Homo sapiens: one gene and its partner. The protein of the gene in region 1 interacts with the protein of each later gene in a pairwise test. Each region holds a gene or a part of one and is shown on either strand. Other genes may lie near its edges.

What was found. Proteins that work in one complex are often made in the same cells at the same time.
Region 2: the proteins of ZNF451 (region 1) and PRMT8 interact in a two-hybrid assay, tested with the Homo sapiens proteins (one large-scale study listed by BioGRID and IntAct).

The regions. Positions count from the first base shown.
Region 1 is NC_000006.12:57,163,188-57,166,687, reverse strand, and holds part of ZNF451 (E3 SUMO-protein ligase ZNF451), read right to left. Parts: intron 1-3,500. UniProt on the Homo sapiens protein: E3 SUMO-protein ligase; has a preference for SUMO2 and SUMO3 and facilitates UBE2I/UBC9-mediated sumoylation of target proteins. Plays a role in protein SUMO2 modification in response to stress caused by DNA damage and by proteasome inhibitors (in vitro).
Region 2 is NC_000012.12:3,588,703-3,592,202, reverse strand, and holds part of PRMT8 (protein arginine N-methyltransferase 8), read right to left. Parts: intron 1-3,500. UniProt on the Homo sapiens protein: S-adenosyl-L-methionine-dependent and membrane-associated arginine methyltransferase that can both catalyze the formation of omega-N monomethylarginine (MMA) and asymmetrical dimethylarginine (aDMA) in proteins such as NIFK, myelin basic protein, histone H4, H2A and H2A/H2B dimer.

The DNA.
Region 1 (3,500 bases):
AAACTCTGGTACTGGTTTATGTATTTACTATACTTTTTATTATTATTTTAGAGGGTACTGCTACTTATAAAAGTGATATTGATGATCCTGACTCTGTGCAGGTCTAAGCTAATATATATGTGTTTGTGTCTTAGTTTTTAACAAAAAAGTTTTAAAAGTAATAAAACAATTTAAAAGTAGGGAAAAGCTTATAGAATAAGGATATAAAGAAAATATTTCTCTATAGCTGTACAAAGTGTTTGTGTTTTAAGTGTTATTACAATAGAGACAAAAAGTTAAAAATTTTAAAGTTTATACAAGTTACAGTAAGCTAAGGTGAACTGATTACTGAAGAAAAAAAAATTTTTTTAAATGTAGTATAGGCCAGGCACAGTGGCTCATGTCTTAATCCGAGTACTTTGGAAGGCCAAGGTGGGCGGATCACCTGAGGTCAGTAGTTCGAGACCAGCCTGGCCAACATGGAGAAACCCCATCTCTACCAAAAATACAAAAATTAGGCGGGCGTGGTGGCACATGCCTATAATCCCAGCTACTTGGGAGGCTGAGGTGGGAGAATCGCTTAAACCTGGGAGGCGGAGGTTGCAGTGAGCCAAGATCACACAACTGCACTCCAGCCTGGGCAACAGAGGAAGACTCCGTCTCAAAAAAAAAAAAAGTAGTATAGCCTAATCGTACAGTGTTTATAAAATCTACAGTAGAGTACAGTAACATCCTAGACCTTCACATTCACTCACCACTCACTCACTGACTCACCCAGAGCAACTTCCCCATCCTGCAAGCTCCATTCAGGGTAAGTACCTTATACAGGTATACCATTTTTTATGTATTTTTATGTCTCTATGTTTAGATACAAAAATATTTACCATTATGTTACAATGTCTACAGTATTCAGCACAATAACATGCTATACAGGTTTGTAGACTAGGAGCAACAGGCTACATGATATAGCATGGGTGACAAAGACTTTAAGCCAACTGTCTTATGTATGTTCAAAGAACTAAAGGAAACCAGGAAAAAAATGTATGAACAAAATTAAGAGTACCAATAATGAGGCAGAATTATTAAAAGCCCATCAAATAGAAACTCAGGAACTGAAAAGTACAATAACTAAAATGAAAAATCTTTAGAGGGGCTTAATGAATTTGAGTACAAAGAAGAGTCAGCAAATTTAAAGATAGTATAATTTAAATTATCCAGTGTGTGTCTTGGTTTGAGTTCAGTCTAAATCAATCAATCAATCAATCAATCATCCAGTATGAGGAACAGAAAGAAAAATGAAGAAAAGTAAACAGAGTCCAAGGGACCTGTGGGACATCATCAAGTGAACTAACATATGCATTACAGGAGTCTCAAGAGGGGAAGTGCAATAGGATCAGAAAGAATGTTTGAAGAAATAATGGTTGAAAAACTCCCAAATTTGATGAAAGAGGTGAATCTACATATCCAAGAAGCTCAATGAACTCTAAAGAGACCCACACTGAGACGTGTTATAGTCAAACTGTCAAAAGCCAAAGACAATGAAAACAACAAGAGAGAAACAACTCATCACATACAAGAGAGCCTTAATAAAATTACTAGCTGATTTCTTATAAAAAACCATGGAGACCAGAAAATAAGAATGTCGATCAAGAATTCTATATCTGACAAAACTATTCCTAAAGAAATTCTCAGATAAACAAAAGCTACAGAATTTACTAGTAGACCTGCCCTACAAGAAATGCTAAAGAGAATCTCTCAGATTGAAATTAAAGGACATCAGACAGTAACTTGAAGCCATATGAAAAAATAAAGAGCAATTGTGAAAAATCTGTCTTTGTTTTTCTATTCTGTGGCTAGCTCTGTGTTCCCCTTACCATTCTTTCTGCCTTAATTTCATTTACTTTGAGAGCAGTAATTATGGCAAACAAACAACAAAAACAACCAGTAGTAGGAGGTAGAAGACATATAGAAATGGTTCCCAATCATTTTAAAACTGTGGATGTAAGGCCAAATTACTTAATGTTTAGAAGCCTCAGTTTTCATATAAAATGAAGAGAATAGTCTGACTCTCACAAGTTGTTAAGATTAAGAGCAGTTTTGACTGCTATTAATTGAAGGAATTCTCAGAATAAGGCATATTGCTAACATTTACAGAAAGATGGTTTTGCAAAGAAAATTATCTATATAATGCTGTCCTCTGTCTCTTCCAGCAATTTGAGTCAGAATACCTCTAGTTAACAGACATACCTCTAGAGTAGACCTTAGATGAACATATAAGTAAATAATGGCATAATGATCATCATAATCCCAGTAACATTAGCAGCAACCAATATATACTATTTATCATATGTCATGTTATTCTAGTAAGGTAGGTATACTAATATTCCCATATTTAAGAGGAGGAAGCTGAAGCACAGTGAAGTTAAGTGACTTGTCCAATATTACACAACTTGTAAGCAGCAGAGTTTTAACTTAGGCAGTATGAATCCAAAGACTGTACTTTTCACCACCACATTATGCGGCATCTGTTTCCTCTGTCAAGTACAAGGAACTAGATTATATGGGATTGTTATGACTGGCCTGCGTGGTCAGAGTTTGATATTGGTCTATGAGGAACAACAAAGAATAACACAAATCATGGAAGGAGGGAATTACCCTAAGGCAAAAAGCCATAAGCAGATTTATCCTGTCTTCTGCCACTATTTCTCAGGCATTTACAGAGTTGTACTGGGAAAGGAAGGAATAAAAAGACACTTAAGAGGTTGCTTAAAATTTTTTTTGAGTTTTGTTATCAGGTCTAGACTAGAACATTATTTTGCTTCTGTGGTTCAGGGTCAACAAAATAACCCAATATTCTATAACAAAATAGCCTCTATCTTAATTTCCCTTATCCAGTTATAGGGAAATGGGTCCTGGTGGCTCTAACATGTTTTAAGTTTGTTAAAAGTTTATTCATTTAGGCCGGGCGCGGTGGCTCACGCCTGTAATCCCAGCACTTTGGGAGGCCGAGGCAGGCGGATCACGAGGTCAGGAGATCGAGACCATCCTGGCTAACACGGTGAAACCCCGTCTCTACTAAAAATACAAAAAATTAGCCGGGCGTGGTGGCGGGCGCCTGTAGTCCCAGCTACTCGGGAGGCTGAGGCAGGAGAATGGCGTGAACCCGGGAGGCGGAGCTTGCAGTGAGCTGAGATCGCGCCACTGCACTCCAGCCTGGGCGACAGAGCGAGACTCCGTCTCAAAAAAAAAAAAAAAAAAAAAAAAAAAAAAAAGTTTATTCATTTAACAAGCAACCATTTTGTGCCAAACACTGTGCTAGGTGCTGCTGAAGTAAAGATAAATAAAACATGATCCTACTCCCTAAGGAGCTTACAGTCAGCAGAGATGAAAGTTATAGACAGAAGTATTTTAAATCCACTTGGCCTGGTACAGAGGGAGCCCAGAATAGAGAGTGGTTGGCTGTGTCTAAAGATGGACAATCTAGGAAAGGCACTGACCATACAACAGTGCCTACAAAAATG
Region 2 (3,500 bases), on another chromosome or scaffold:
GAAGAAAGAGTCAGAGACGAAGTCTCCAAAGGGATGAGGCTGGGACCCTGCATAGAAGTTGCTGGGCTTCCCCTGGGACTCACTGAAACCACCCACCCCAGTACTCTTGTTGGGTCAGGTGCATAGTCCTTATAGCCTTCCTCCAAGCCCCATCAGAACTCCCTCTCAGTCCCAGTGGCCTCTCCTCCCATCACATCCCCATCTCCTCAGTGCTGGGGATCAGAAGACAAACAACCCGATACTACAAGTTCATAGCAAGGGATGGATGAGGAATACCCTGTCACCCACTAAATGCATGGACATACATGCATCTGAACATGCTGCTGTTTTTAATTAGTTCAACAGAATGAAGATCTTCAGACAGTATGGGGAAGAGATTTGTAGAGTAGGCCCTCCTATCTCCCCTTAAATGACATCATTCATGCAAACTCCACAGCTAAACCAGTTTCCCCAGATCCACTGATATGGCAGGTACTTGGTCCTCAATCTTACAACTAGCTTTTCCTGCTGGGCACACATAGTGGCTCATAGCTGTAACCTCAGCTACTCAGGAAGCTGAGGCAGGAGGACTGGTTGAGCCCAGGAGTTCAAGACCAGCCTGGGCAACATAATGAGAAAACTAGGCGAGTGTGGTAGCACACATCTGTGGTCCCAGCTACTCAGGAGGCTGAAGCAGGAGGATGCATTGAGCCTGGGAGTTCAAGGTTGCAGTGAGCTGTGACTATACCACTGCACTCTAGCCTGGGTGCAAACCAGTGAGTGAGACCCTGTCTCAAAAAAAAAAAAAAAAAAAAAGAGCTTTCCCTGCCTGCTTCTCTGTGCACGGGGAACTAAACCTAGCACCTTGGCCCAGACCTGCTGTAGGGTTTCAGGTGTATCTTCCTAACCAGATCAGAAAGAAATGAGGGATGGTTCTTGTTCCACAGCCCTAATGCTGGCCCACAGCTCATTCATCCTGTATGACCCAAAGCCATAGTGGTACTTGCGCCTCCCCCATATCTGCCATTGAGTCTCTTCCCTCCCCTCTCAGCACACGATATATTCTCCAGTTAAATGTGAGGAGTTCTGCCTCAGAGGCCACCGTCCTTGCCAGCAGCTGTCTCTGAAATCCTTCCTCTCCCTCCTTTCCAGCCTCTCTCTTCCTCATCCTTCCTCTGGGAAGCCTTGCCTGACCCGCAAAACCTGGACTGAGAGCTCCCAAGGCACCCTGAGCTCCTGTTATTGCGGTGCCTGTCACACAAGATAAATGCCTTCCCCCCATCCCCGTTTGTCTGCATCCTCCATGGACTGCAAGCTCCATGAGGGCAGGGACCGGGCCAGCCTTGCTTCCTCGGTGCCTGCCTCTGTGCTTGGTAGATCTACGAGTATTGAATAAATGAATGATGGTAAGAACCCAAAGAGCAAATGTCTGTAGTGCTTCAATGTACTCGTACTGGAGTTCAATGTACTCCAGTTACCCTGGGGGCCTTTGGAATCTACAGACTGCAGAAGAACCCATCTTATTACAGGAAGTTCCTCTTGGTTTGGGCTGTTGCATTCCTCTACCAGGATTTCTTTTTTTTTTTTTTTTAGGACTAAGGATAAAGATGAGAAGACTTGGGGATAAGATAAGGGTCTTCAAAACACTTCAAAAGCTGTCACATGGAAAGACTTACATGTGGCCTTATCATGGCTTTGGGGGCAGAACAAAGGCTAGTCACTAGGCATGATTAGAAGGCAGATTTTTAATTTACCAAGAATTAGAGCTGTCCCACAATCATATGAGCCACCTGAGGTCCACCCTGGCAGGTGTTCACACAGCGCCAACTGGGGCTTGATCATGCACTGACTCAGACCAGGTGACCTCTAAGAGCTTTCAAAACCCCAAGGCCAATTTTAACAGCACTGAAGAGTCTGTCTTTCTCTGCCCTTCACAATGAACTGGCTTGATCAAATGTCAGTGGTTTGGAGAGAGACTCAAGTAGCCCTCCGTGTGTGCATTTGGGAAATCGATGCAAACTCAAGGTCATGGGGAGAAAGTGCAGCCTGCACATTTGGAAAGGGAAGGAGGATCATGAATGTGCAGTCTATCCCTTTCAGACCCTGCCTGGGTTCCTGAACACATCCAGCCTTTCTGGCCTTCAGGGCATACTGCTGTCTGCAGACAAAGTCCACCTGCTCCCAACAACCATCTCTCCCAGCTACCTCTAAATAGTCAAAAGATAGTTCCTGGTTATGTGTGGAGACTGTCAGTGTATGACTGACAGCACTCTCGCCCCCACTTCCACCTACACCAGCTCAGACAGGTGTCTCTCTCCTGTTCCTAAAGACCTTCAGGCAAAGGGATTTCAAGCAGCCTCCTTCTGTCACCTAATCCGATGCCTTATGAGACCCCCAGAGACTTCCTGGCCCAGATTTGTCAGCCATGGGGTCTGCCTCTGATGGTAGTCCCCAAAACATGCCGACTTTGAGTTGGAGGAAGATGATTATTTTCCTTGATATCAACATCAAAGGGTTAAGAACATCCATAAACATCTCGTTTCCATGATGGGCCCATTAGCCATGGAGTAATTGTCTAAACCAGTTTTCCCAATCCTGATTCTCCATCAAAGTGCCCAGGAGAAGCTGAGTAAAAGTCAATGTTTTGATTCTACTCCAAGAGATTTGAAGTCAGTAATTCTGGGGGGCGTGGAGGGGCAGGTGACGTAGACACACAGCCATGGCTGAATCGCAGTGCATCTCCTGACCTCCTTTGGGAAGGTAGAGTGGGAAAGACATTAATTAGGTGACAATAGCCCCGTGTCCAGTGTCCACTTTGCCACTGACATGCGATGTGACCTGGGGCTCCTTTTCCACATCTGCAGAATATGGCTCATGATATTCACCTCCTGACGTATTGTGAGGATGAGATGAGATGAGAAAGGGAAAGGATCATAGACTAAGGGTGATCAAACCTCCTGCTGTGCCTGGGACAGTTCCAGTTCACATCTGTTTTCCTGGCATAATGATTAATAGGTCTCCCTTTCACCTGCATACGTGTCCTTAATGGAAAGATGCGTTACATGGCCACCCTACCTAAAACATATTAGGCCCATGTTAGGGACTTACTAAGCCATTGCATCAGGCAAGTCTTTGGTCATTAGAGTGGTATATGATTTTATTAGTCCATCAACTATGGCTCTGGTCTGCAAAGATATGCCGCCTCTCTCTACTGGTGGAGAATGTCTTGGAAAACATCCAGAATGTCACCGTGCACAAGGGTGGGCGCTCAGGAAAGGGTTGTGGACAACATCTAGAGTTCTCCTTGTCAGGGAGGAAAGCTTTCCCTTCCCCTGCCCCAACCCCATCTATGACCATCCAGATTGTACAACTGGCTTTCAGCCTTCCCCATTCTGAAGATGCCTCCCTGCTCTTAGCATTCTGGCCCCACATACCCCTTTTCTCCCTCCCACAGTTCCCTTCCCCATCACAGTCTCTCTGATTCTAGGCTTTAGGCAGCTTTTCTTCTACATTTTGAAGTG